5 linked regions of the Homo sapiens genome follow. The protein of the gene in region 3 interacts with the protein of the main gene of each other region in a pairwise test. Each region holds a gene or a part of one and is shown on either strand. Other genes may lie near its edges. The genes, in order: SLC22A7, DSCAM, RAPGEF4, TSPOAP1 and ZC3H11A.

Region 1 (5,118 bases), on a different chromosome or scaffold from region 3:
CCTGCTCTTACCCAGTGAGCTCAGACTCTCCACCACTTAAGTTTGGCCCACTCTGGAGACTCCGCACCCTATCCAGAACACCCCTGGCTCTCCTCCAAGGCCCTCTCACTACCTGAACCCGCTTCCCTCCAGATATGAAGTCCTGGAGCACTGTCCTGGCAGTGATGGGGAAAGCTTTTTCTGAAGCTGCCTTCACCACTGCCTACCTGTTCACTTCAGAGTTGTACCCTACGGTGCTCAGGTGAGGAAGCCTGCAACTGATCTGGGGGTATGGGGCTTGTTAGTCACGTGTCTTAACCAACACTTCTACATACACGCACCACAACCTGGTCTCTCACTCATTTTTTTTTTAATTTTAATTTTTGGTAGAGACGGGGTCTTGCTATATTACCCAGACTGGTCTCAAACTCCTGGTCTCAAGCGATCCTCCCGCCTCAGCCTCCAAAAGTGCTCGTATTACAGGCACTATTACAGGCATGAGCCACCGCACCCAGCCTCTCACTCGTTCTCCACACTACACCCAGAATACAGAGCTAATCAGGGCCCTCTGTGTTTGCCCTAGTCTTGGAGAAGGCAGAGCATCTTATCTTCTGTACTATGTGACCCTGAGCCACGTCAGACATCCTCTCTGGGCCTCCTTAAGAAAACAACCCCAAGGCCGGGCACTGTGGCTCACGCCTGTAATCCCAGCATTTTGGAAGGCCAAGGCGGGCGGATCACTGAAGGTCAGGAATTCGAGACCAGCCTGACCAACATGGTGAAACCCTGTCTCTGCTAAACATACAAAATTAGCTGGGTGTGGTGGCGAATGCCTGTAATCCTAGCTATTTGGGAGGCTGAGGCAGGAGAATCGCTCGAACCTGGGAGATGGAGGTTGCAGTGAGCTGAGATCATGCCATTGCACTCCAGCCTGGGCGAGAAACTCTGTCTCAAATAAATACATAAATAAAAGAAAAAAATTAAATAATAATAATAATAAGAAGAAGAAAACAGCCCCAAGAAGCCCCATCCTGCCCACCCCCATCCCATTCACCCCTGGAAGGCAGAGATGCCCTTGAGGACTGTCCCAAGAGCAACCCCTTGAAAGGCCCGGGGTTGGGGGGGTCTTTCAGCTAGCTACTGAGAGGTGGGAAGAGGAAAATTCTAGGCATCTGGTCATGTTTAGAAAGAGGTTTGCCTCCTCGAACAACATGGCAGGGCCTGTACAAACTACTGACCTTCTTCCTTCCACATCACCCTTTCCTTATCTCCCAGTCTGGTGACTTGTCTTCTCCTTTAGTGATACCTAATTGGTACTCTGTCAGAATGGGGGCCCTGTCCTCTGGTGGGTGCTGGCTTGAGGTCTCCTGGCCTGAAGGTGGGTGGGAAGACCAACTGAAAGAAGTCCTAGTTTTCTTAGCTATATGGGGAGAAGGGAGTATCAGGGCCTGCCAGCCCTGGAGGGAAGCCCTGTGGGGCATGACTCCAGGTAGGTGTGAACACCATCTGCCTCCCTCATCCTCTTTCTCTGAACAGACAGACAGGGATGGGGCTGACTGCACTGGTGGGCCGGCTGGGGGGCTCTTTGGCCCCACTGGCGGCCTTGCTGGATGGAGTGTGGCTGTCACTGCCCAAGCTTACTTATGGGGGGATCGCCCTGCTGGCTGCCGGCACCGCCCTCCTGCTGCCAGAGACGAGGCAGGCACAGCTGCCAGAGACCATCCAGGACGTGGAGAGAAAGAGGTGTGTGCACAGGACTGTGTCTGTGTACGTGTGATAACATGCATATGGATGCAGGTGCTCAGATACCTGACACCTTAGGATTCAGACAGGAAACTATATCTGCACATGTGTACTTGGTGCATGTATGTGTGCGTGCACAGGTGAGTGTTTCAGGGTGCATGATTGGGGGCATGTAAACTGCAAGCATAAATGTGTACATGAGTGTATGAACACAAATACATAAGGTTGTTCAGGAAGATGTGTATGTGTGCACACTCAAGTATGCCTACACATCAGGGGTGTGTACAAGCATGTGTGTGAGTCACTTGTACAGGCGTTTGTATACCAGGAACTGGGGTGAGCCCTGGGACAGCCCTGATGGGGCAGGCTGGGGTGGTAGGCTCGGGGATTAAACCCCACCATTGCTCACAACTCCTTCCTCCCTAGTGCCCCAACCAGTCTTCAGGAGGAAGAGATGCCCATGAAGCAGGTCCAGAACTAAGTGGGAGTGGAGGCAGGCCCTCCACAGAAGCTCTGCAGCAGGGGCTGGGAGAGCAGAAGGGCAGGCCCTGCAACTCAGGCTGGGAGTATCGAACCCTCTGCCTAGGGCCGGAGTTGCTGCCAGTACCCGCTCCCTCTGCTCATCCATCCTTGATTATTTGGCTTCTAGGAACAGTTGACTTCCCAGAATGCAGTGGGCTGCTGGGCACCCCTCTCACGGTTGGGGAGGATTCTGTAAATAAAGGTGCCCCTTGGGTTGGGGCAGTGGTGACGAGCTGTGGGAAGAGCCCTGGATAGGAAGCCACTGAGTCTGCCCTGGGCTCTGATAAAACCTTCACCATTAACTTGCTGTGTGACCTTGGGCATGTGGCTTTCCCTCTCTGGGCCTCAGTCTGTTCATCTCCCAAATGGATAATGAAGCCTCTTGGGAGGCCCTACCATAGGATCTGTTGCCATGCTCAAATGAGTTACTGAATAAGGTGCTTCTGCTTCTTCTAGAGATGGTGCTAAAGAAAGGACTAGCATATGAGACTTCTGGTACCAATGGGGCTGGTGGGCATGCTGTCCACTGTGTGGTGCTAGGACTGCCAATGCCAGGCCCAAGGGACAAAAAGAACAGAGCTTTTTGTTCTCATGGCTGGCCCTGCTACCTCCGAGGCACCCTGCAGGGCAATGCATGTCATCCCAACCCCCACACTCCCCATCCTCCAACCCACTGGTCTCATGCCCAAAGAAGAGTTGAAGGCATGGGAGCCAACATTTTATTGAAGAAGCCACAGAGGCTGAAATTCAATAAACACAAGTTTTATGAGTACCTTGAAGCTCCAGAATGTGCTGGGGAAAGGGGTTGTGATGGCCAGGAGGAGGATACCCTTCAAAACGGGCTGTTCCCTAACCAGATAGAAATGGGAAAGGGAAAAAATTGGCAGAGAAAGTCTAGACTCTCTGGCCTACCATGGAGCCTAGGCCCAGGCCCCCAAGATCCCACCTTCCCCAACCCCCATGGGACTGGAGATTTTTGTAGCTTCCATTGGACCATGAGGGGCATGATGGGAGGCCTGAGTTAGGGTGACCTTTTTTGTGAGCGTCTCATTTGAATTTTATCTTCACTGGGTCATAGATGTAGCAGCCCACATCGCCAATGTTCACACCTGAGAGAGAGAGCCCTATCACCAAAGGCCCTGGGTCTGTGGTGCAGGGTTCAGGCCTAGAGGGAACTTGGTGGGGGGGCCAGGGTATGCTTAACCACAGGGGAAGTTGTCCACACATACCCACAGACCATGTACATGCCATACTTCAGGCATGTACATGCCATCCCAGTGTCTGGGATGGGGCTGCCCACCTTTGGGGCCAAACAGGTAGCCGTAGCAGGGGACGTGGCAGTAGGGGACTCCATCATGCTGAGACACAGAGAGAAAGAGAGCTGTCTCAGCCTGGTTCTCTTCCCATCTCCAGCCTCCTCCCAACATAACCACTCATTCCTGCCCTGCTCACCTCAGCATGACTCCCAGCAGTCAGGGTCTTGTGGCAACGCTGGCACCTCAGACACGGTCGGTGCCAATTTCTGCCTAATGACATCACCTTCTCAGCTGGTGGTGGAAAGAAGTGGTAATGCTTCCATTCTAGGGGTAGAGTAGGGAGACCTACCTGCCTTGGATCACCTCCCTCCCCCTTGCTGCCCACCCTGTATCCCCCTCCCCAAGTTTTCCACTGTTACTTACCAAAATAGACGGGCTCCCCACAGCCAGGGCACAGCGAGGTCTCCCCAGTGAATGTCTTCATATGGGGAGGGCCTTTAAAGGGGAAGAGGCCCTGGCTATGTCTGAGGTGGAGATGCCCACCAGCACCTGCCTGCATATGGTGCTGTCCTCTTTCAAAAGCCATGCTCATTCCAGAGTGCCCCACCCAGGCGCCCAAGAGTCTGCCTTCTACAGGCCCAGAGCTGAGCCCCCTCTGACTCCACCTCCTGCCCCATCCCTATGTGTATTAGGGACTATCTGCTTCCTTCTCCTGCTTCCTTTTCATCCTCCCAGGGGCTCACGTACCCACCATCCCAACCCTGTTAGCAACTCAATCCTCAGGAAACTTGAGCTGATATAGGAGCTGGCCACAGCACGGGTGTCAGGTGTTGGGGAGCACAGTGTCATTGCCTACTTCAGGGAATGGAGGGAAAGAACAGGGACCAGAGGAGAAAAGTTGAAGAATATGAGAGGCTGGCCTTATCCCAATGACTCCTCTCCTTTAGATCATTCCTTCCATGGCCCTGGCCTGGGACAGACCTAAGTTCCTGGCCAGCTTTGCCTCTGACTAGCTTTGTGGATGGACAGTCATTTGCCCTGTCTGGATCTCACTTTCCTCACCTGTAACACACGAGGAGAGGGGATAATGCCATCTGCCCAATTAACCTCTTTTTTTTTTTTTTTTTTTTTTTTTGAGATGGAGTCTCGCTCTGTTGCCCAGGCTGGAGTGCAATGGCATGACCTTGACTCACTGCAACCTCCGCCTCCTGGGTTCAAATGATTCTCCTGCCTCAGCCTCCCAAGTAGCTGGGATTACAGGCATGAGCCACCACACCTGGCTAATTTTTGTATTTTTAGTAGAGATGGGATTTCACCATGCTGGCCAGGCTGGTCTCGAACTCCTGACCTCATGATCCACCTGCCTCGGCCTCCCAACAATTTACCTCTTAACTCAGCAGCTCACATGAGGGAATAGAAAGAAAGAAAGAAAAAAAAAGCGGGGAGTAGATAGAGAAGACTTTGCCAAGAATGAAGTTGTGAGAATGTGAAGCAGAGGGCTGGATAGGAGACTGCCACCTGGCCCAACCTCCGCTCCAGCTTGGGGAAGGGTCGGGAGGAGGACTGGGAGGAGCTGAGCCCAGCCTTACTTTTCTTGCCTTGGGGGAGGCCAGTCCTT
Region 2 (6,228 bases), on a different chromosome or scaffold from region 3:
GCTGGTGCCTGGACCACCTCGGTTTAACAAAAAGTCCATTCTAAGGTATGGAGGCAAATGTATGAGGTCACCTAGAAGGAAAGACAGGGTAGTTAGTTGGTGTCTTCATTTGGTAAACATGGGCAGAATGTCCTGTGTGCACACGGGAAGCCATGCGGGCTTTAGAGATGAGAATGCCGCTGCACACAGGTGCCTTTCTCAAGATCCTCCTTCAGCGCTCACCACAAAGACAGGTGGAATCGTCCTCCTACCTCCTCCCTGGGCGCGGGAGGAGCTCATTTTCCTACAGTACTTACTTACTTGTATTAACTTACTTGTACAGAAATGGAGGAATGGAGGTAACAGAATCCTTCAACACACCATCGTTGAAAGAAAAACATACATCAAAGGCATCAGTGTCCACTGGGTACGAACGGTGATAGACCAAACCCCGCATGTGATTGGAAGTACAGGGAGAGCACAGGGTTTGAGGAGAGAGCCAGGGACGCCAAGCGAAGATGGACAGCTGGCTCTCGTCCTGGCAATTCTATGAAACCTTGTGACCTTGGCCAGCCACTTAGTTATGGGTCTTCATGATGGCTTTGGGTGAAAGCGCCACAGCTTATGGCCTTCTTACCAGGCCCTGCCTACCTGCTAACTTCTGCGTGGCTCTTCTGTTTCAGCCATGCTGTGTATAGAGATGACAGCAGCTTAGACCAGAATTCTAGTGTTTCTACTTCCTGCTTATGGTCACTCTGGCTTCTGTGGTGCCACGCAAACATAACCTCAGGTCTCCTTCAAGAGCATCTGCTGGCTGGGCACGGTGTGCCTCATGCCTGTAATCCTAGAACTTCGGGAGGCCGAGGCGGAAGGATCACCTGAGGTCAGGAGTTCAAGACCAGCCAGGCCAACATGGCAAAACCCCCTCTCTACTAAAAATACAAAAACTAGCCAAGCATGATGGTGGGCGCCTGTAGTCCCAGTACTGGGGACACTGAGGCAGGAGAATCGCTTGAACCCGGGAGGAGGAGGTTGCAGTGAGCTGAGATTATGCCACTGCACTCCAGCCTGGGTGACAGAGCAAGACTCAAACAAAACAAAACAAAACAAAACAAAACAAACAAAAAACCCAAACCAAAACAAAAAAACCAAGAGCATCTGCTGCAGGAAGGGAGGCATGTGTTCTCTGGGATGCTGCAAGCCAATGACAAGCGTGACAGGGCTTTTCTCATGGCCGTCCCCGCCCGATGCAGGATCTCCCTAACAGGCATCCTTTGCTCAGGGATACCCCATCAGCCTCACTGCAGCCTTCTCAGAAGTGCACCGCAGCCTGACGTGCCTCCAACCAATCCCTCCTTCGCCTTCTCCTCTCACAGGTGTCGGACCTCTGTTATGGTCTCCAGACTCTCCTTGCCACCTCCTGCTTCCTTTTGCTTCCTTCTTCACAAGAATTTCCCCAATAAATTCCTTGTGTGTCTAATCTGTCTTGCTAGGCGCTTCTCAAAAACCTGAACTGACACAGCTTCTTTCACCATCAGCTACTGAAAGGTCACCCTGACCTCTCATTGCCAAATTCTCTGGTTTCCTCTTCGTCCTCTTCCTACCTGCATTACTATAGCATTTGATGCCGTTGATATTTTTGTTGTTGGCCCTTTCAGCTGCCAGGGCACTGTGGTCTTCCAGATCTCTGCCTACATTTCTGGCCACCCTTTCTCACTTTCCTTGACTGGATCCTTTTCTCTGTCTTTCCTCTAAATACGGAGTGTTCAGTGGCCTGCTCTCAGGCCTCTCTCGGAAGGCTTGGCTGCTTTCCTCATTGCTTTATAAATAACATTCCCATCTATCTTTTCCATTTTGCTCTTTCTCCTGAGCCCTAGATGTGAATTTTAGGTGCTTTGCTAGGCATTTCCACACGAGTGTCCATCTGGAATTCTGAAGGCCACAGTCTACCAATTCAGTTAATGAAGGCCAACCCCATCCCCTCCCAATCCCAAATACTGCTTCTCTCCTGTGTGCTCCATCTTGTGTAACATTATCACCATCCTTCCATCCTTGAAACCTCAGAGGTTTCACTGACACCTTTCTCTCCAGGTTAATTCTACCGGCAAAATATCTCTTGACTCTTTTTTTTTTTTTTCTTTTTTAAACAAGAAGAGATAGAGTCTTGCTCTGTTGCCCAGGCTAGAGTGCAATGGTGCATTCATGGCTCACTGTAGCCTCAAACTCCTGGGCTCAAGCAAACCTTCCACCTCAGCCTCCAGAGTAGCTAGGGCTACAGTTACATACCACCATGCCTGGCTAATTATTATTCTTAAAATATTCTGGAGACACAGGGTCTTGCTTGGTTTCCCAGGCTGGTCTCAAACTCTTGAACTCAAGTGATGCTCCTGCCTCAGCTTCTCAAAGCACTGGGATTACAGACATGAGCCACCTGGCCTTGACTCCTTCTCATTCCCATCTTCAGGGCCCTGTTTCAAGGCTTTAATATATCCCATCACCTCCTTGCAAAGCATGAGCACAATTAGGGCCCAGCCACCAGGTCCACTTTGCAACCAACACTGCCTGACTTGAGCTGGACTGACGCTGGGTCTGAGTTTCTGCTGTTTTGGTACAGACAGTGTGCCTTATCCAGCCCAGTGCTTCCCACTTTTTGAGGAACAGGCAGACAAGGGGTATTTGTGCAGTACACTGGGATGAACCCAGGGAGCTGTTTCTGGCCACCTTGAGGTCTGAAGGACTCACCATCTTGGCACACCTGTAACTCGTGACATACCAGGTGCAAAACTCTGTCTAGAGAATGGGCTGGTGGTGTGTGGTCCTGGAGCGAGGGCCCAGGGTAAAGGATGTGCAGGGAGAGAGATATGATGATGGTCTGAGCTCAGGAGCAGCTGTGGGATGTGAGAGAGGGAATTAAATTGTGAGATATGAAGGGGGTCCAAGGAAGGTGGCTTCAGAGTCAATGACAAGTGGGAGTGGTGACAGAGGAGAAGGGGTTAGGGGTGACTCCTTCCCAGGCTCTAAGCTCAGGAAACTGTGTGGACAGTGAAATCACTAACTGTGAAAGGGTGTATAGGGGAAAGATCGTACTTTGATGACAAAAGATGAAGGGTTTAGTTTCAGACCTGCTGAGTTTGATGCAGCTGGGGACATTCAAGACAAGATATCTAGTAGGTATTTTTATCATAGAAACGTAGCTCTAGGATGACTCACTGCTCGTTTTCTGAGTCTAAAGTAACTGAACATTCTTGTTTCTTTTGCTTCAAAATATCCCCTGCTTTCCTTATGTTACTGTATGCTAACAATAATTAATTGAGCCTTCCTCATCCAGCCCCTTTGGACCCATAGGCCCCGAAGGTGCAGGCTGAGGGGATCTGAGACCACCTGAGCCAAGTGAGGGCTGCCATTAGCCAGCTGCTCTGCTAGCGGGGCAATGAAAGTGATATGTGTTTAGACAGTGTTTAAAGCCTGAACCTTAGGAAACACCTTCAAGTTTACCCACAGAAAAAGAACAACCAGCATAACAGAAGGAAAGGACTATTCAAGAGTATAAGAGAACTGGCCTGTAATCCCCGCCCACTTTGGGAGGCCTAGGCAATGGATCACCTGAGGTCAGGTGTTCGAGACCAGCCAGGCCAAAATGGGGAAACCCCGTCTCTACTGAAAATAGAAAAATCAGCTGGACGTGGTGGTACACGCCTGTAATCCCAGCTACTCAGGAGGCTGAGGCAGGAGAATCTTTTGAACCTGCGCATTGGAGGTTGCTGCACGATTGCACTCTATCCTGGGCAACAAGGATGAAACTCCATCTCAAAAAAAAAAAAAAAAAGTATAAGAGAACTAAAAATAAATATGGCCAAATCAAGCCCTAAAAATGCATTTTATACAATTTAAATGAGCATACAAATTTTCAAAATGTTATTACCCGTCTTGAAAATTTTTTTCCGCGAACAACAGGAGCAATGACCTTATTTTTGGGAAATGCAGCAAATGATTTCTTTGTCATTGTGTTATTACATTGTTGCACCACTTGGGATTTATGATTCAAAACTCCATTTAGCTTTTTCAGGATATCTTTATTCTACTAAGTGATGATGAGTAGTTATATGATTTCACTGGGAATGGCAGCATGTAATTCACTAAATGACCCCAGCGACACTGGACTGGGCTCACTGAAATTAAAGGCATTCTAATTCAACGTTGGCTTCCTACTGTCAACTGGATCCAAGGGAAGCTCAGTAATAAATACCTAGACAATAAATGGGCCATAACATTTTTTTTTTTTTTGAGATGGAGTTTTGCTCTTGTCGCCCAGGCTGGAGTGCAACTCGGTTCGCCACAACCTCCACCTCCCGGTTCAAGCGATTCTCCCCCCTCAGCCTCCTGAGTAGCTGGGATTACAGGCATGCACCACCACGCCTGGCTAATTTTTGTATTTTTAGTAGAGACAGGGTTTCTCCATGTTGGTCAGGCTGGTCTCATATTCCTGACCTCGGGTGATCCACCCGCCTCAGCCTCCCAAAGTGTTGGGATTACAGGCGTGAGCCACCGCACCTGGCCCATAACATTCTTATAGGAAGGAATTACATAATTTGGCATTCTTGTAAAAAGGGTTTTGGTAACTTGATGCATCTGAACTTTGGCTTAGAAAAATATAATGGCATGAGGCCTACCCATTATAGACACTAATGTGGAGGGTTCAGGAATCTCTTGCCATATAGAATAGCTTTGTTCCTGAAAGAATTTGAGTTTTTAAAACTTTATGAAACTTGATGGCATTGAAAATTACTAATGTTCGTTTATGGTAGTTATTCTTCAGTCTTCTCTAACCAGGGATTATTTGCAAAAAAAGTGATGAAAGCATTAACAGAGCTGTCATTAAGAAAAAATTGAATAATTCTTTTGTAATGTGAACATCCTTTTGTATGTGAATCAATACACCTTAATTGACCAGTCTTGCGATTTGTAGTTTTATACATTCAATCTCCTGAAAGTGATTATGTCTTTATTCCTAAGAATCTGATAAACAAATTGTTAATTTTATTATTTATTTATTTTAAATTTTAAATTATTTTTATTCAATATTATTTTTATCATGTTGTTTGTATATTTGAGGAAATGGGACAGACATTTACCTCCAGGGTTCTTTAAATATATAGGTCAAGAATGCCTCATGCTCTTTCTGAGACCCGACTCAATCACGAACGCTTGACATATTTGTAATGTGTTGCAACAGATTTGGGGATAAATCTCTATTTTAGTGACTCCCCATTGAATGCACAGGGCTTATTAAACCTCCACAAAGTAATAGCATTGTGGTCCCGGCTGGACTGCAGAATGCGCAGGTCTTAGATTGGAAGGAAGAAACGTGTTTGAAATCAAAAGATAGGACTCATAATATCTGCATCCTGCCTGCAGGGGCTCCCACTTCAGATGTAGTTATCAAGAGGGCTCCAGTCACTGAAATGGACAGATGAGAAATAAAAATCCTTCCTAATGGAAACAGCTCAGTGTTACATCTTTACATGCAATGCCTACATGTATTTGTTTATTGCAGGTCTGACAAGTATCTCTGAATATCCAATATCTCTGATTGATCCAGTTTTTCAGGCAAAGCTCTACAAAGTTGTGTGATTCTCTAATTAGCTCCCTTCAACAATGTGTATTTTCTGATTAGCGTCCAAAGTAGCCCTTTCAACTGTGTGCGTGCTGCAAATGAGTTCTCTCAATAATTAATGCACTTACAGAGAAGAGAGCACCAGAGTAGTCAGCGGTAAGCTCTGTTATTACAGGCACTTATGTTCTTTAAAACCCCAGCCCATGTGCTCATCAACAAAGCCTCTGAGGACCTGGATTCTCTAATTGTCCTCCTATATGCTTAAGATGCCTACACATAGCAAGACAACTCATGCAGTTATTGATCCAGAAAGAGACACATGATGTGTGAGACTGTGGTGACCATGGGGACATTGGCACAGCATTCCCCAGTGCCCTGCCTGCCATCTGCCTGTGTCACATGGGAGAAACCAGCCCTTGGCTTTAATTGTGGTGATGAGGAATAGAGGCCAGGATAACATTGCCTGCATTTATCTGACAGGTCTAGATCTGGGCTCAGTTTCCTTATCCATAAAATGGGAGTAATAGCAGAATCTAGCATAGAGGGCTGTGGTGAAGAGTAACTTAGATAATGCATGTGAAAGCTTTCCCTGGATTAAGGAATCTGTTTCCACAGGGAGCAGGGCCTTCTTGGGT
Region 3 (6,228 bases):
AAGCGGGGCATGGCTATGGAAAGACCAGCTTTAACCTTTCTTGTGGGCAAAGGACTTTTTGAGATTTACTTGATGAAAGCACACCCCCACAGTCAAGCCCTTCCTTACATTTGCTTGACAATCTTCTCCAACTCTGGCAGTTGCTCCTTGAGGGCAGCAATCATCCGGGCATCATCTGATACAGATACATAAAACTCCTGTAATTGGCAAAAGTCACAGGCTTTTAACAAGAACTGCAAAAGGCACATGATTCTGTCAAGAGCAATAAAGATGTGTCCCTATGTCATCTGCTTCACCAGCATCTCCAGACCATGGCTTCATGGACTGGAGGAAGAACAAAGAAGAAAATGTTACACTATGTCTAAGTTCAAAATTGGCCATGAGAAAAAATTTTGGAAATAGTGGCAATCAATGACTGCACGGATATCAGAAATGAAATGAATGCCACTGAACTATACACCTAAAAATGGTTACAATGGGAAAATTTATATTAGATATCTATTTTACAACAATAAAAATTCAATTCAAAGTAAATTGCAGGTGAACTGTTTATATGATATTTATATGAAAGCCAATGTTTTGAAATGGGTCATTTTGGAGTCCACAAAAGAGTGCTTTTTTTAGTTCATTTTTCTCAGGGGAATTTTAATGTTCGTTTTCACATTATTTTGGTATGTATTGTTTATTGACTAGGTGTCACTCATTCTGGGTCATGGTTGGTGGTAAGATGCAGCATGGTCTTCAGCACTGTAGCGAATTTATGATGAGTTTGTGCCACCAACTCAGGACTCTCTGATGCCCTTCTGGGAACTGTCCTGACCCTGCAGCTGTAGGTGTGCCTGCTCTGCAGCAGAAGGTGAGAACCATGGCAGTGCCAGCTACACCACCACTTTAGTTCATCTACAAAATGGTCCTGTACTCAGCGGGTAGAGGCCATGAGTCAATGTATGACCCCAAGCTACCGCCATTCCTCGCATTTTCAAAATACTTCATTCCTCAGCTTGGAGGGATGCTCTCGGTCCATCTTTCCTCACTGCCTCGCACCTCTGGCTGTGAAATGATATGAATAGAAAGGAGAGACGGTGTATGTTTCTTTTGGATAATTTATAATTTTAGAACACAGACTGAAAAAGTTTGAAACGGAAGTAACATTGCCTTTTGCCTGAACAGAAGTCAGGTCTTCATCCAAATTTTGGAGGGGAGAGCGACTAATTGAGCTTAAATGTCAGAATCAGTGCTGTAATTTGGGGCTAGAGCTACGGGAAGGAACGGGGAAGTGCAGCTTTCAACAGTGTTTATGAACCACTTTCACAGCCTACCATTTCCAGTTCTAGCAATTCCTAAATAAATGATCTGCTCCACTCCACTCAAAAATATCTACCATTTGATCTAGTAATCCCATTTCTAGGAAGGTAATCAAGGACAGAATCACTTGCACAAGACTTTTTACCGTACTACTATTCTAGGAAGGTGAAAACTGGAAATGATGTGAACACTCAACAATAAGGGAACACATAAATATATCTGTGACATGGCTACTCAATGGTCATTAGATATTTTTTTGATTACTTCAGGAGATGTAAATAAATTTTTATTATAAGGACTGTACTGACAGAAAAATCCTTATATCAAATAAATGGAAAAAGCAGCCTGCAGAATGATGGGTGCTACGTGACTACAAGATAAAACATACAAAGAAAAAGAGACTAGATGAAAATACATGAAAATGCTACCCATTAGGGAGTCAGAATGGCAGAATAATGGGTAAATTTTTTCCTTACTTTTTCTGTAGTTCCTTTCTGATGAATGAATGTGTTCACAAAGTCTAGCATTTGCAATTACGGTCTCTCCAGGGAAGCTGCTGAGCCTATAAGTAGGTCCCTGTATTGCAGGACAACAGTATATTCTTGGAAGAGATGACCCCTGCCTACCTCCAGGAAGGCCATAGACACGTCATCCTCTTGCAGGAGGTCTCCATACATGGCAGCCCACTGTAGAACCAGGCGGATGACTCGCCTCTTATTGTTGAGGGCATAATCCATTTTCTCCTGTTCTGTACCTTGTGAAGGCTGTGCGTGGTAGGTGCCGAGGAGTCAAGGAAGAAATTGAGCCATTTCACACTCATTTCACATGCTACTTTCAAAGGTAAAGAGTGACAGATCCCAGCTTCAGAAAGCCAGGCTTTTAGATGGATAGAATTCCTCCCCTAGGCCCTCATGAAAAACCCCACAGAAAGTGTCTGTGCCGAATGCATGCAATTCCTTGTTTACTCCTGCTGACTCTGGCCTGATAGTTGCCCAAGGGATTAGACTTTCACAGACTCCTCCTGGACTTGGTGTGGACAAGGATTCTTGTGTCTAGCTCTAGCTGTCATTCTCTGCCAGGATCTGCCTTGCCCTTTGCTACTCTGGGTGGTAATGTTTCTTGCCATTGCTTCTCTCTGGGTGCATTTCCACCCGTTGTTGGTTTCCAAAATTCTGCCCGAATCTCTGTAATCCCCTTTGTTACATGCATTTCAGTAAAACTGAATGCCCAGCAGGGCATCTAGTCCTGCTGGGACCATGGCTGATACAAAGAGTGCATGGGTGGGCAAGAGAGGCTGGAGGTAGATAAACTCACCCAGAGGTAGGAAGAGGAAAGGCTCCTGCTGTACCAATTCTCTGGTGAGGGCCTCAGACACATTTTTACACCATATCTTCTTCTCTTGTGTAGAACCATGACTTACCTTACTGGCTCTTTGCACATTTATGGCTACCATCTTAATTGTAAGCACCTTGAGGCTTGGGATGATGGTCATTTGTCCTGTATTCTACACTACGCCTAGGATACTGACTTTCACCCAGAAACTGTATTTATTCATTAATGCAACAAGTACTGATTGAGAGTCTCCTATGTGCCAAGAGTAAAGGTCCCTGGTCCATTCTTGTATGCTCTACAGGAGGCACAACATCACAGGTAATCAAGAAATATTTTAGGTTAGACACACCATTCCTTTTTCAATGATTTATAGTTCATATTATAGATAATTAGTTCATAAAACAACTTACTCTTCACTATTTACAATATAACTTGCACACAAAGTACTTCACTTCAACTCCACTTTATAGCCTTGTGATGAAAGTGTCGCTCCATTTCTATAAGTGAACAAACTGAAACTAAAGAAGCATAAATGGCCAGGATTACAGAGTGAGAGTGCAGAGGTTGCGAATGCAAGACTCCTGATGCCAACTAGTGTTCTTCCCATTACCCAAAGCCCCCATTCCTCACAGCGAGCTACAAGACTGGCCCTGTCTTAGCTTCCTACCCTGCCTTGAAAGACGTAGAAAACTGGCTTGTGACAGTGCTGTGCTTGAGAGCTAAACCAGTAAAGAGCCTTGTCTAAAAGGACTATAAATAATCATGATCAAGGTAAATGACAGAACTTTAAGGCAAAGGTTTACTGCATGTAAATGGGTTGCAAAATGGCTTTCATAAATTGAGCACGAGATTCATAAAAAAGAAAATTGCTCAACCTGTATTGCTACAATCCTCTCTCAGCTCACAATGAAGAAAGGAAGAAAGATCGCTTTATGTGAAAATTATTTCTTTTCTGATTAACTCTTTGGTCTCTTGCTTGCATGCATTTATAACTGAGTTTTTCTTTCCAAAGAGTTGCAATGCTGGACATTATATTTTATGACCATTTTTTAATGGCACGTAGGAGCATAGTCAGATGCATGGTAGGTACCAAATAGGAAAGTCTTGACTGATTGAAAAATATGTACTGGTTCACCCGAGAGTGGGAGGATCTGGGTTCAAGTCCTCTAGCTGCCACCATTTAGCTATGTGATATTGTGTAAGTCACTTAGCCACTGTAGACTTCCATTTACTCTCCATGAAATGAGGAGGTGAGAAGAAATCATTTCCAAATTCTCTTTCAGCTACCGCATTTAATAACGCTAAGGCAAGGTGAACCGAAGGAGAATCAGATAGGTGCCACAAACTAACATAATGAAAATACAATGCTACGTTGCCACTGTGCTTTCTTTGGTTTAGTTTTATGGTATCTTGTGTTTGTGCAGAAACTTGGATGACATCAGGCTTTGGCAGGTGCTATCTTTTTCATTTCCATGGCATAGGAGCCAAATGGAGAAAGTAAGAATGGCCAAGGTGGGGAGTAGGGGTGTGGGCTGAGGAATGCCAACCCCTATAAATGTAAGAGTCAGTGGAGATTCTGAATTCTGAGTACGGTATGTGTCAAAGCTCCCATTAGGCTGGGCTCGCTCCCTAGACTGCTGTCCCAAATATCCTGATGCCACTATGGACCATGCGTGTTCCTCACCGGGTACCTGAGGCTAGGCTTCTTCCCTCTAGTCCCTCTTCTAAGTCTAAGTGATAGTGCCTGTGAAAGACAACCTTTCTGATGGCCTTGTACTGTGAAAAATGAGCAAATTTAATTCTCTCTCAGATCATGCCAATTTAAAAGAATGTCACACTGTGCCCTAAGTTACTCTATAAACTACAATCTTAAAAATATTTCACTACACATGCAACATGAGCATATTTTGAATCACTCAAAGATGGAAACAGCATAGAGAGGAAAGGGAAGCTTTTACTGAGCTGGTAGTAATAGAGTGGTGAACACTTAGCCTCAATTTAGAAAAATAACCCCAAGATAGGACAATTAAGGTGCTAATGTGGTTTTTTTTTTTTTGAGACGGAGTCTGCTAATGTGGTTTTTAAGAAATAAATATATTTTCAAATGAATTAATATGCTTTTCAGAGAAAATACATCAAAATGCTTTACAAGTACTTAGGCAAAGAAACTATTCAAATTGATCCAATTGATTCACTAATTATTAATTAACCGACTACTTTGAGTAAAGCACCATGCTAGGTTCTGGTGATACAATGGGCACAGTCCTATTCATCTGAAATATTACATTGGACAACATGTTGGAAAGGAGGTATTCACATGTGTAAGAGAGAAAGGAGGAGTGGGGGGAGAGAGAGAGAGAGGAAAGATTCTTTCCTACTTGTTATGATAACATGTGTATAGAGCTTTACAATTCATAAAATAAGTCAATATTCTTATGCTATCAAATGATGCTTTCTACAAACCTGAGGAGGAAATATTTACCGGTGGGGAAAAGGAGATTCAGAGAGAAGAGATCTGGCCAAGGTTGTTGAGTGAATAAATGGCAGGGCTTGCAAATTCAGACAGGGCTCTTTCCACTATTCCCACCCCCACTATCCTAACCAGCAGCTATAGCAACTAGACCTTAGTGCTTGGGTTCATGAAATTATTAAGAATAAATGCATCTGGAAAGCAAAAAGCCTAATGGGAAAGAGATTCCGTGTGTGTGTGTGTGTGTGTGTGTGTGTGTGTGTGTGTGCGCGCGCGCGCTGAAGTTCCAAGGTTCCCGCAGCTGATTCAGCATGTTTAGTCACCAGGGCTGAGCACCCCTTGTCTTTGATGAAGAACCCCACAGCCTCTAGGGAGATAGAATTGACCAAATCCGGAGGGACTGGGAAAGGCTTTCTCCCTTTTCTCACGAAAGTTCAGTATTTTTACCCCTGGGAAAATAAAAGGAAGCGCTGACTTATTTCACAAAGTCTCATTTGTCCCCTCATGGATGTTTATTTACTAAAGTGAGGGTGGGGGTGATACTTCTTTTATAGCTGAATCCAGGCATTGCTAAAGGATTCTGCTCCTCCAGAGGCAACACATAGGGTTCCCCTTCTGAAATGTCTGTTGAATCAGGTTCTTAAGAAACACAGAGAGAACTTTGTATACAATTGATTATACCTGAAATGGTTACAGATCAGATGCTGATGTTTCTATTCATTCCCATAACAATCTCCCCAGGCTTTTAGAAAGTTTGTAATTTTTAGCTTTTATTTAACTCCTACAAAAAAGGTAGGAAGGGGGAAAAACTATATTCCCTTCAGGTAGCAGCCAAGGAATAAAGAATATCCTACTAGTTCCCTTGTCTCAATATGATGTCAAAAGTGCAATCTAAAAAGAGTAACATTTCAAATACAGCATGTTCATAAATTCAGACACATCAGGAAGGTTGAAGAAGCCGTCTCTGGCTAAAATTGGAATAATGCATGATCAAGAAGTGCTTTTATTGAATAAGGCCATGACTCATGATATGACAGTTGGGTCCAGGAAAGAAGCAATATGGCTGCCTGAACTCATAGGGAAAGAGATGCAGAAAGACAACATGGTTCCTATATCTCATA
Region 4 (6,228 bases), on a different chromosome or scaffold from region 3:
CTGCCCAATTTGCTATTTCCCTGATAACGCAAATAAGATCAGGGTCCCCTTCTTCCGTCACCCATGGCCTGGCCTCCTGGGTGTTCTGGACAACAGGGCCCAAGCCCACATACCTGCTGGGAGTGTGGTGAACTGCAGGGTGGCAGCCCGCTGCTCCAGCCTCTCCCAGCCTGGTTCCCAGGGCCCTTGGGGTGGGAGCTGAGCCTCCACTTGGGCCTGATAGGGTGTGCCAGGCCGTAAGTGGCAGAAGGTGGCCCAGTAGGTACTGGGGCTGGCAGGTGGGCACTCTTCCCCATTGAGGTAGATGGCATGGGCCAAGTTGCTATTGCCGGGCACCCAGGTGATCTCAGCAGATGTGGCTGTCAACCGATGGACCCGCAGCTGGCTGGGCACCACTCCGGCCCGGGCACCCACCGCCAAGCAACAGCGCAGTGGGTCAGAGCTGCCCCGGCTAGTCAGGGCCTGGACAGAAATGTGAAGGGGCCCGGCCCACAGGTCCAGGTTCTCCAGCACGGCCTTGGGTGGCGCCCCAGGCCCCAGGGCCTGTCGCAGCTCCCCATTCACACAGATATGGAAGCCGTGTAGCTCCACTTGCTCAGGAGGCGGCTCCCAGGCCAGCACCACGCTGTGGGCCAGCTGCTTGAGGACCACCAGACGGCGGGGGTAAGGCACGGCAGGAGGCTCGCCCAGGCCCTCCGGTGATGGGCTCAGACTGAGCTCGTCCCCTGCATCCTCCTCCTCAGGTCTGGGCTGGCTCCTTCCCACACTGCTTTGGCCCCCGCTACTGCTGCCACCCCCACCTACACTCAGGAAACTGAGTTCAGGGCCTGAGCTGTGGGACAAATCGGCCAGCTCTGGAGGGAGGGAGGTCAGGAGGTCATCATCCGACACACGCTCTACAAAATTGGAAGGGACCAGGCCCCTTCGGCCATCCATGAGCTCTCCTGGCAGGAGGAGGACAGGAAGGGGCAGGGCAGGGGAAGACAGAGAGGAGATAAAGAAAAAACGGTATAATAAATGCATTTTAGCAACTGCTAGTGGGTGATCTTCAGCATTTGATTCAAATCAACATTTAACTGTCAATTCTTTTAAAAGACAAGAGCAGTAAAGATCTGGATTAGAGATAGGTCTGATAATAGTATTTTGGTTCTATAGGACAGTGCTTCTTCAATTTTAACTTGCATATGAATCACCTACAGATTTGTTAAAATGCAGATTCTAACTCGGTTGGGTCTGGATGGGGCTGAGATTCTGTGATTCTAATAAGCCACCAGGTGACACTCAAGCTGCAAGGATGGAGGAGAATATCATGTTCTAAGTAAGCATGTTGAGTATTTCAAGGTAAAATATCATAATGCTTTTAAAATCATGTTTAACCTACATATAAAGCAAATATGCCAAAGTTTTAACAATTGTTGAATCTAGGTGCTGGCTATATAAATATTCAAATATATTCTGTACATTTGAAAACTTTTGTGTTAAAAATTGCAATAATAATTTCATAATTTCATATTAAAGTTTTAAAAAATAAGCAGGTCAGGATAAGAAAACTGGCCAGGCATGGTGGCTTATGCCTGTAATCCCAGCACTTCAGGAGGATGAGGCAGGCAGATCGCTTGAGCCCAGGAGTTTGTGACCAATCTGGGCAACATGGCAAAACCCAATCTCTACAAAAAATGCAAAAATTAGCTGGGAGTGGTTGCACGCCTGCAGTTGCAGCTACTCAGGAGCCTGAGGTGGAAGGATTGCTTGAGCCCGGGAGGCAGAAGCTAGAAGTCATAATCGCGCCACTGCACTCCAGCCTGGGCGACAGAGCAAGATGCTGTATCAAAAAAAAAAAAAAAAAAATTCTGCTGGTTGGGTTTTACCTGGGCCTGAGGAATAGGGGCCAGGGTGCCCCTCAACTTCTCTTTGTGAACAGCAGACATCCACAGAGGGAGAGAGAGACAACCAACTCAGCAGGGTAAAGGAGGAATCTTTAGAGACAAATGAAGTAAGTGCTAGTGAAATAGTCACTTGTAAGTTCTAGAAGGATCAGGAGCCCCAGCAGGCCTGTGTCTAGCAGCATGATTGACAGCAGTCAATCCAGGCAACCACCAATGGTTATGTTTTGTTACCTGCATCAGTTCTCCTGAAGACTTGACAAGAGAGTATTTTAAAACATTTGCTGTTGTTTGATTGAGGGATGTCAAGGAAGCTGGGCACCCAGCATGTAATGTCACGGTCAATTTAAAGAAGAAAAAAAGGTCTCAGGAAACAGACAGCTGGTAGCTGGTGTGCTTTATTGAGAGGAAGGGGGAGCACGAGCCAGGGCTTAGGGGAGAGGGGTGAGTGTAGGCAGGTCTGAGCTGCAGGGGGGCCTGGAGTTTCCCCCAACAGTCATCTGTGCCCCTCACCTCCACCCTCTCTCTCTCTGCCTATGCTAGGCAAAAAAAAAGTAAGGAACTTGAAGAAACAAGAGGGACTGTCAATAAATTCACTGATATAATAAGCACTGTAGAGGGTTGAATGGTGGCCGCCCAAAAACATGTCCATGTTCTAATCCCCAGAACTTGTGAACATGACCTTATTTGGAAAAAGCGTCTTTGCAGATGTAATTAAGTTAAGGATCTTGAGATGAGATCATCCTAGATTATCCGGGTGGGTCCTAAATCTAATGACAAGTGTTTTTATAAGAGACATGCAGAGGAGAAACACTAAGAGGAGGAGGCAATGGTGACCACAGATAGAGACTGGAGTGAGGTGGCCATAAGCCAAGGAACAACTGGAGCCACCGTAAGCTAAAAGAGACAAGGAACGGAACCTCCCCTAGAGCCCCCAAGGGGATGCAGTTCTGCCAATACTTTGATTTCAGACTTCTGGCCTCCAGAAGAGGCCAGTGAGAGAATAAATGTCTATTGTTTCAAGCCACTCTATGGTAATTGCTCCTGCAGCCCTAGGAAACGATCATAAGCACCAGCACTGTGGAGTGGGAGACAAAGGCAGGAGTCTTCACACTAAGAGGATCTCCAGCCTGCAGGGCTGAAGCTGGAGCCTGGGCCGGAGTCAGGCACATGCTCCAGAAGCCCATGCAGCTGAGAACAGCCTAGGTGGCCCAGACATAGACGAAGCAGTCCTTTAGCTAAGGTTGGACAGGGAATACGGCATCTTGCCCCCGGTGGCATTTACATCTATCCCAATTTATCCCAGATCGCAGAGTTCAAATTCTAGTCATTTGTGGTTAGTTAATACTTATGCCTTTGCTGCCCCCTCCAAAAATAAAGTGTTTGGGTTTTGGTTTTTGATTTGGGTGGGGTTTTTTTTTCTTCATTTATAAAGTATTATTTTCCTGAAAGCTTTTTAATTCTGATCTTCATAATCTACCCCTGTAGGGAGTTTAACTGTTTAGGCCACAAAGCCAGGTACCATGGGTCTCAGCAGCTCCTCAAGTAACAGGCAGAGGACCCAGGGAAAAGAAACTGAGCAGGCTCCCAAGCTTCCAGGGTTACAGATTCAGAGCTAAGCCTGTTCCTAAATCTCTACACACAGCTGCGGCTCTCGCCCTGCCCTGTCCATGCCCCATCCAATTCTCTACACAGTGCCATCCTCTCTGCTGCTGATGGACTCAGCCTGGTGGTACCCAGGCCAGAGCCACCCTGAGAGAGTCTCCCAAGGCCATGTCTTCCGCAGGCCCATAGTGCCCAGTCTCAATGAGGCATCTGCCTTGAGTTGCCTGATCAGCCCTCTGACTCCCCACAGGAGCTGCAGAACCTCCCTGAAGCAGACACCCTGCCTGGGCCCTGACAGCTGCTAACCGCTTGAGAACACCTTCCCCTGGGATCTTTACCCTGATTCCTCCTTCGCATACCTGACTGGAGTCCAGCATCAAATCTGTGCTGCATACCTGACCTCAGGTGTCACTACTGTGAAACACTGCCACGCCCTGACTATCCACACAAAAATGAATCTAGCCAAAATCTCCTGTGACACTCTCTCCACCATCTGGACTATGCTGTCCTGTCCTGCTTGGAGCCAGACTCCCTTCTTTCTCTTTCCCCAGTGGCTACTAGGTCTCTGTATGCCTTTTAGCTGAGACCAAAAAGTTAAGGTGGGCTGAGCACGCTGGGCAGAGGGGATGGATGGATGGATGGATGGATGGATGGATGGATGGATGAATGGATGGATGGATGGATGGATATCCGTCTTTGGGAACATGGGCTCAAAGGCAGGGGAATGGACAGAATGACCCCCCACTACATTCCTACCTTCAAAAAAGCCATCCTCATCCATGTTGCCATAGATGTAGATGTACTCGCCAGCTGTCAGCGGAAGCTCTGCTTCTGGATTCTCATTGGGACCCTCAAAGGGGTTGTAGCTGTTAGGGGAGGCACAGAGGAGGAGGAGGAGAGTGACCTACACTCCACTTCCATGTCCTGTCTTCTCTCTCCCACTGCACTGAGCCTTTACGGAGACTTGGTTGTGGTTGTCCACCACCAGCAAAGCTGAGCCCTCACTGCACCCACCTTGGCCCAACTAGGTTATTAGAATAGGTCCATTGTGTCCTGTACTGCCCCCACCACTTCCAGAGGTCTCCAGCTCCACCCGGCCCCCTCCTATACCCCAAATGCTGGGGCTGGGCTAGGGGGCAGTGAGGGTGAGGGACCCACCTATAACGTGCTAGGAAGACCTGGATCCTGGCTCCTCCCCGGCTGCCCTCTGGCGCAGCTGGGAGCAGGGAGACACTGTCTGCCTCCAGCTCCTCTACCTCACTGGCTGTGTCCACCTGGGGGCAAACAGAAAGGGCTGGTTTCTCTTCAGGGCCTGGGGCCAAGCGCCAAGCAGGCAGGTTTCCAGGCTGAGCCAGAGGACCTATTGCTTTAAGGAGGGAAAATGAGCACATACATGCTGCACAGGAGCAGTGGCAAGGACCCCCTGATGCTCTCTAAATTAGTGCCTGAGAGAGCAGGTCCTGGCAGAGCCCAGCTGCCCTGGGCAGGGGCAGTGGGGATAACCCAGACCCCTCCCTGAGCCTCTACTGCACCCGCCAGGAAATAAAGCCACTTCCCTCATCTCAGAGGGGCCCAGGCCATGCTGGTGTGGGGAGTGGGTGTCAACAGAAGTTTGGTTTGGTTCCTTAAGGTAAAAACTCAGCAAAGTTGCCAGGTGCAGTGGCTCGCGCCTATAATTCCAGCACTTTGAGAGGCTGAGGAGGGCAGATTGCTTGAGCCAGGAGTTTGAGACCAGCGTGAGAAGCATAACAAAACCCCATCTCTACTAAAAATACAAAAATTAGCTGGGTGTGGTGGTGCATGCCTGTGGTCCCAGCTACTTGGGAGGCGGAGGTAGGAGGATTGCTTGAGCCCAGGAGGCAGAGGTTGCAGTGAGCTGAGATTGCGCCACTGCACTGCAGCCTGGGGGATAGAGCGAGGCCCTGTCTAAAAACAAACAAACAAACAAACAAAAACAAAGAAAAAAGAAACCCCTCAGCAAAGCACCCCAACTGTAAATCGCTGGAAGCAAGGAGGCAGAAAGGAGGCAGAAGGAGCTTGAGGGGTCCCTGCTTCTAGCCGAGTGACAGTGTGTCTGCTGTTCAGCTCTGGAACTCAGAACTTCCCGTCTACTTGCCCGGCCCACAGCCCAGGGCACCGCAACCTCAGGGCACCCCAATTCTCTGACCCTTGTTGAGGTTGCTGGGGTAGCCTGGGGAACAGGCTGTCTTCTCTTCTCTGCCAATGCCTGGGAGAAGGGGACCAAGTGGGCAACCTCTCCACAACCACATCCAAAGCTGGCACCATCCTTCTATCCCACGAGGGGGCAATAGAGGCCCAGGGCTTCGTTCTACCACTTTCTGAATGTTTGGCTCTCAGAGCTGCTTCTGACCTGCCTCCTCCACCTTCTGGGGTTTGTGGGTAGAAAGAAGGATGAGTTGACGACCAGAGCTATGAGTGATGCCCAGGAGCTTAGTAATAATAACAGCTGCCCCGTGTTGAGCACACATCCTGTGTGCCCCACACTGAGACAGGCAGGTTCCGTATTCATTTAACTCTCACAACAACCTTAGAAGGCAGGTTTTATTAGCTCCAAGATTCAGATAAGGAAACAGAAGCCCAGAAAGGCTCAGTGACTTGCCTAAGGCAAAGCTGGGATTTGAATCCTGGAACATGTGCTTTCTCATACAACCACCTGCTTTCACTACAGATGCTCTTAGGAACAGTCTCATTATGCAGATCCTGGTGCCCAAGTGTCTCC
Region 5 (6,228 bases), on a different chromosome or scaffold from region 3:
AAAAAAAAAAAAAAAAAATTGGGGGTTGGAAATACAGAGCAATCAGGCTGACGTAAGCTCCAGAAGAAAATCCTAGCAGCTCTTGAGGAAGAACTCTTCTACTAGAAAATGACGTTTTTCCTTTTTTTTCTTTTTTGAGACAGAGTCTTGATCTGTCGCCAGGCTGGAATACAATGGTGCGATCTCAGCTCACTGCAACCTCTGCCTCCTGGGTTCAAGCAATTCTCATGCCTCAGCCTCCCGAGTAGCTGGGACTACAGGTGCATGCCACCCCGCCTGGCTAATTTTTTGTTTTAGTAGAGACGGGGTTTCACCATGTTGGCCAGGATGGTCTGGATCTCCCAACCTCATGATTCGCCCTCCTCGGCCTCCCAAAGTGCTGGGATTACAGGCGTGAGCCACCACGCCCAGCCTTTCCTCTCTTAATATAATTTCTTTTTAACCACTATAAGAACTTACAGAATTAATATAGTTCTTATATGATGTTCTTCAGAGCTATATTTTTCAAGATATACAAGTTCTTTCAGATTCTTTATTGTACCCAGCTCTGAAAAGTTAGGGACTGAAACACAGCTGCAGTGAATTAAAAGCAACCACAATTTAAATAAGTCTGTGTTTTACTTCAAACAGGCCATGGAAATGAAAATCTATTTGCTCATTTTGGCTGTTGCTTCTAGAAGCGTCCTTAGTATTCTTCCCTAGCAACATACAACTATCCATGCCAAAACGTGATGACTTACCACCTTGCTTCTTAGATTTTTCCTTCATTTTCTTTGACTTAATTTCCTCAAGAGTTTTTATTCCAAAATTCAAACATTCACCTGAAAATTCAAATAGAAATTTTATGAGGAACGGGAGCCTTTTCATCTTTGTATTTTATCTGTACATAGCAGGCATTTATTTTTGAATAAATGATCAACAGAAACTAAGTATAGGTAAGTATGCGTGTAGCATGGGAAAAAGAAGAGGGAGGTCAATGATTGTGAACTAAATTTCAAAGGTAGTTTCAACAGTGCTATAAGAGGCACCAATCTAGCCTCTTCTTACCTTGCTTTATATTGACTGCAGGTTTCCGGACAGAAGTCACTCGTAATCCATTGTGAACTTCAGGAGTTGGTTGCAGGGTAGGTGTTTTGGTTTCATCACCTTCCTCAGAAAACTGATCTATATATCAACATTTAAGGCAAATTCACAATTAAAAATACGCCTATAGCTTTAATCCTGATTCTGCCCAATTCACTATGAGACCCTATTTATTTGCCTTAAAGAAGGAGCCAGACAGAACTTACCATCATCATCTTCATCATCATCTGCAGCATTAATTACAACTGGTGGATGCGTGGGGCTAGGAACATTTTCGGAACTTTCTACTTTCATAACGCTCCGCAGCTGAGGGGAAGGATTGGACTGGACAGACAATTTGTTCTGCTGAACTGAAAGTTGGCTAGCCTTCACTTCCTCTTCTGGTGACTCAGGCACAGTGGGCAACACAGCTAAACGCACAAAATCAGTCATAAATTAAAAACAGAAGATACAACCCCAACTTACCAAAAATTCCTGACCACCTATGAAAACTATAGTGTATTTGTCTTATGAGCATTTATACTAAATTTCCTCATTTAAGTTCTAAAGTCCCAGGGAGGGAAAAGATGTGCTTTTACCTAATTAACTCTCCACTAACTCTCCACTGTACATAAACACAAAGTGGGCACTCAAAACAGAATCAACAGAAGACTAGAAGAAGCATAGTACCTGTTCACAAATTCTAGACCTTTAATTTTAATACTGCAATTCTAGGCTTTTTGCTCAGCAAAGAAGTAGCTTCTAAGACCCAAGCATATGACACTTACTTGAACCAAACCAGAAAGGAATAAGTCTACTTTTTTCCCTTAAATTGAGGTAAAAAGATGTAGCCATCAAATTTTAATCACGTAGCAACTGTGGCTTTTAAATGGCCAATTCCACTTTTAAATTACTTTAAAATGAACTTTGGGAATAACCACTAGCTTTTTAGTTTTATTTTAGATTATAGTCTAGAGTAGGGTTGGCAAATATTTTCTGTAAAGAGCCAGTTAATAATTTAGGCTTTGTGGGCCATATGGTTTCTGTCTCAACTACTCAATTCTATAGCACTAGCACAAAACTGATAATAGAAAATATGTAAATGAATGGGCAAGGCTATATTCCAATAAAACTTATTTTACAAAACAGGCAGAGGACCAGTTTTGCCAACCTTTGACCTAGAAAATCAAATTTATTTTGAAAACGTTTATGGGTCTGATAAGAATATGAGAAATGAAGTAAGTATAATAACTTAAATGGCATGCCAAGATATATAATGGTTCTAAGGCCAAGGATAAATCATTTAACCTTAATAAGATTCAGTTCACTTATCTGTAAAGTGGAAATAATTCTGCTGTTTCACAAGACTGAAAGGAGTCAATGTCTGAAAAGTACTGTTGTACAGTGTGCATAATAGGTGTTCATTTGATATTCTTTTAAAATTAAAAACTGATCTCACTTTTGCTCGGAGGTAGGAAAAGGCCATCAACATATCGTCCTCTATTGTGATGGAAAGCGCAGTTTAATTTTTGACATCCTGTTGGCTGATTTTCCCAATAACAAGGAATTTCACTGCGTTTTTTCTGTAAGAGGGAAAAACACATTGCTTTCAAATAAAACAGTGATACGTATATTCATGTGGCAGTTTGTTTTCTAGACAAAGTTCATACAGGGTTCAAAAATCCGAGGCATGTGAGATGAGATGATTTTTAGAAGGAAGAGAGATTGCTGAAAATAACATAACTTAGGCATGATGGAGAGCTGAATGGAGCAGGAGAGTAGTTTATGTTATTCTTTCCCTTTTTACCCTCATCCTGGAACCCCTAAAATGTCTACACTTAATTTAGAGAAGCAGGATGATACAGTAGTTTAAGTTTATGAAATCAAAGATAACGGTCTGAATCTCTATTATGTTACTTATTGGCCAGGTGGCCTTGGATAATTCATGCCTCTAAGCCTCACTTTCCTTAGCTATAAAACGGGAATAAATGGTTTCTTATGAAGAGTACATAAAATAATGTATATAAAGCACTAAGCACATAGGTCAAACTCAATAAACTGCAGTTATTACTTGAAGCTGAGAGTTCAAGGGTTTGAGAAAATTCTTCCCATTCATGAATTCTCAAAGTAAGGCACCTATAACAACACACTAAGGATGTTAGGTATCCTTCCCAAGTCACCTTACTTTTTTTTTTTTTTTGAGACAGAGTCTTGCTCTGTCACCCAGGCTGGAGTGCAGTGGCGCGATCTCCGCTCACTGCAAGCTCCGCCTCCCGGGTTCACGCCATTCTCCTGCCTCAGCCTCCAGAGTAGCTGGGACTACAGGTGCCTGCCACCACACTCGGCTAATTTTTTTTGTATTTTTAGTAGATAAGAGGTTTTACCATGTTAGCCAGGATGGTCTTGATCTCCTGACCTCGTGATCCGCCCGCCTCAGCCTCCCAAAGTGCTGGGATTACAGGTGTGAGCCACCGCACCCGGCCAGTCACCTTACTTTTATAAAGGAAAATTGGGAGAAAAAAAAAAAAAAAGAATACCTGTGCATCTAGAATAGAATAAACTGCTGAATCATAGGATGTATGTCCTAGAAAAATATATACATTAGTTCTCCAACAGCTGTGTATAAGCAATGTTCACAGCAATATTATTTTCAATAGCTCTATAATTTTGCAAACCCATGTGTACATCAATACTAGAATGGATAAAGAAACTGTAAAGTATTCGTACAACAGAATATCATCTAGTAATGAGAAGGAATAAACCATTGCTATACTCAATGCCACAGATGTGAAATGAAAGAAGCCAGACACAAGAGTGCATACTATACCATTCCATTTATGAAAAGATGAAAACAGTCAAAACTTCTCCATGGTAGAGTAGTTGGGATGCTGATCAGCTTTGGGGATGTGGTTAGTAACAAGGGGATGAAGGGGAAGATAGATTACTGCTAATACTCTATTTCTTGAACTAGGTGCTGATCAAGTAAGTATAATCACTCTATGAAAATTCTTCAAGTTGTAAGATTACGATTTTGCACTTTTCTAGATACATTTTAATAGTTCAAAAAAGGGGGAAAAAAGATATGAGAAGTACTCCCAAAAACTAACTAACCTCCGATGAACTGCATTATGTCGAATCTCTAATCATCATAAACAGCCTATGGTTTAAAATTCCAGGAAAAAACACCAGCATTGAAATTTAAGAATATGGAGAAGAGAGACAGAGAAACAATAACCATTACAAAAAGATGCTTAAATGTATCAAAAAGGGCAAAGGTCAAAATCTACTATATTGAGAGAGTGATAAAATTCAATTATACACTGTTTTCAGGGACGTGGAAGAATCAGGCAGTCTCAAACACATAATGGAAATGTAAATTTGCTCCACATCTCTGAAAGGTGATTTGGCAAAATCAGTTTTTTAAAACTATGTTCTAAGTTTATGTCATATGCATAATTACCTATTAATATTTTTAAAGTATAATTTTTAAAAAGAATTAATTATTATTAATCAATATTTATTTATTAATTTTAATATTATTGATATTTTCTAAAAGTATAATATTTTTTAAAAGTATAGGCTACTGTGGGCACACTACCTATAGAGTGGCCCTGCTCCACAAGGAGCAGTAAAAATAAAGTAAAAATAAAAGTACAGCAAATACCGTTACTTTCAAAGAACTAGGAAGAATTTATTAGTCCTCTGTCACACCCGAAAGGTAGATGTAATAGCTACCACTGTTTTTTAGACAGGAATAACAATTATTCAATTCTTCCTTTCTCAAGGCAGAACCTAATGCCAATCTTCCTTGTTCCTAAGCCTACCTTTGCTTAAATTTTACATCTTTCCTGGAAGCAATTTTCAAATTACTGAATGACTTCTGTAACAGTATCTTCTATACACAGAAGTCACATGACATTTATTTGATCTGTTTAATACATTTGCTAGATTTTGTTTCTAATTGAAAAGTAATATATGTGCAACGAAGACAACTTGGAAAATGGAAATAAATGCCAATTATGCTATTACCCAGAGAATCACTTATTTTGGTATGAGTTTTTACTTGTAAAAAAAAAATCACAAGTGACTATATGCATACTAAAAAGAAAGGTATTCCATGTAATTCTGTACATTTTTCCTTAGTAATATCCTCCACATGCCAGGCGTGGTGGCTCACGCCTGTAATCTCAACACTTTGGGAGGCCAAGGTGGGTTGATCACCTGAGGTCAGGAGCCTGACCAATATGGTGAAACCCCGTCTCTACTAAAAAATACAAAAATTAGCTGGGCATGGTGGAGGGCGCCTGTAGTCCCAGCTATGCGGGAGGCTGAGACAGGAGAATCACTTGAACCCGGGAGGTGGAAGTTTCAGTGAGCCAAGATGGAGCCACTGCACTCCAGCCTGGGTGACAGAGTGAGACTCCACCTCAAAAAAAAAAAAAAAAAAAAAAAATCCTCCACAGTAATATTTCTCCTACATAATTATGTCTTCACATTTTTAACAGTAATACAGCACATGATCCAAAGATAAAACAGTTGATTCTCATTATTTGCAGTAGTTATGTTCTATAAAGTCACTTGGAACACTGAATTAGTAAATACTAAACCATTATTCCTAAGGGAAATAGAGTTGGGTTCCTGTGGGCCTCTGGTCACATTTTCATCAACTAATCAATACATAACTTTGTTTTGGGTGCATTTAATATTGTTCATTCATTAATATGAAACGCAAGACAAATAGCACTGTAACTCACACTTGAACAAAGCTTATCTAACATCTATTTTCTTTTTTTTTTTTTTTTTTTGAGACGGAGTCTCGCTCTGTTGCCCAGGTTGGAGTGCAGTGGCACAATCTTGTCTCACTGAAACCTCCACCTCCAGGGTTCAAGCAATTCTCCTGCCTCAGCCTCCCGAGTAGCTGGGATTATAGGCACGTGTCACCATGCCCGGCTAATTTTTTTGTATTTTTAGTAGAGACAGGGTTTCACCATGTTGTCCAGGCTGGTCTCAAACTCCTGAGATGATCTGCCTGCCTCAGCCTCCCAAAGTGCTGGGATTACAGGCGTGAGCCACCGTGTCCGGCCTAACAATCTATTTTCTCTATAAGACACATCACAGCTTTCTTCTACTCAGCAACACTACAAAGCACTTGAGCAATAGGCCTAG

What was found.
Region 1: the proteins of RAPGEF4 (region 3) and SLC22A7 interact in a protein complementation assay, tested with the Homo sapiens proteins (one large-scale study listed by IntAct).
Region 2: the proteins of RAPGEF4 (region 3) and DSCAM interact in a two-hybrid assay, tested with the Homo sapiens proteins (one large-scale study listed by BioGRID and IntAct).
Region 4: the proteins of RAPGEF4 (region 3) and TSPOAP1 interact in a two-hybrid assay, tested with the Homo sapiens proteins (one large-scale study listed by BioGRID).
Region 5: the proteins of RAPGEF4 (region 3) and ZC3H11A interact in a two-hybrid assay, tested with the Homo sapiens proteins (one large-scale study listed by BioGRID and IntAct).

The regions. Positions count from the first base shown.
Region 1 is NC_000006.12:43,302,523-43,307,640, forward strand, and holds the end of SLC22A7 (solute carrier family 22 member 7), read left to right. Parts: intron 1-132; coding exon 133-241; intron 242-562; coding exon of another isoform or gene 563-749; exon of another isoform or gene 750-1,509; intron 1,510-1,515; coding exon 1,516-1,722; intron 1,723-2,148; coding exon 2,149-2,203; 3' UTR 2,204-2,700; coding exon of another isoform or gene 2,701-2,731; 3' UTR 2,732-3,016; downstream 3,017-5,118. Other genes in the region: CRIP3 (cysteine-rich protein 3), read right to left, coding at 3,292-3,353, 3,545-3,602, 3,697-3,791, 3,924-3,995, 5,090-5,118.
Region 2 is NC_000021.9:40,013,316-40,019,543, forward strand, and holds part of DSCAM (cell adhesion molecule DSCAM isoform CHD2-42 precursor), read right to left. Parts: intron 72-6,228; coding exon 1-71. UniProt on the Homo sapiens protein: Cell adhesion molecule that plays a role in neuronal self-avoidance. Promotes repulsion between specific neuronal processes of either the same cell or the same subtype of cells.
Region 3 is NC_000002.12:173,010,318-173,016,545, reverse strand, and holds part of RAPGEF4 (rap guanine nucleotide exchange factor 4), read right to left. Parts: intron 2,083-6,228; coding exon 1,932-2,082; intron 198-1,931; coding exon 109-197; intron 1-108.
Region 4 is NC_000017.11:58,311,779-58,318,006, forward strand, and holds part of TSPOAP1 (peripheral-type benzodiazepine receptor-associated protein 1), read right to left. Parts: intron 4,763-6,228; coding exon 4,647-4,762; intron 4,355-4,646; coding exon 4,245-4,354; intron 945-4,244; coding exon 114-944; intron 1-113. UniProt on the Homo sapiens protein: Required for synaptic transmission regulation. It probably controls the recruitement of voltage-gated calcium channels to the presynaptic membrane, and modulates neurotransmitter release.
Region 5 is NC_000001.11:203,824,716-203,830,943, reverse strand, and holds part of ZC3H11A (zinc finger CCCH domain-containing protein 11A), read right to left. Parts: intron 2,646-6,228; coding exon 2,522-2,645; intron 1,494-2,521; coding exon 1,290-1,493; intron 1,165-1,289; coding exon 1,048-1,164; intron 822-1,047; coding exon 741-821; intron 1-740. UniProt on the Homo sapiens protein: Through its association with TREX complex components, may participate in the export and post-transcriptional coordination of selected mRNA transcripts, including those required to maintain the metabolic processes in embryonic cells.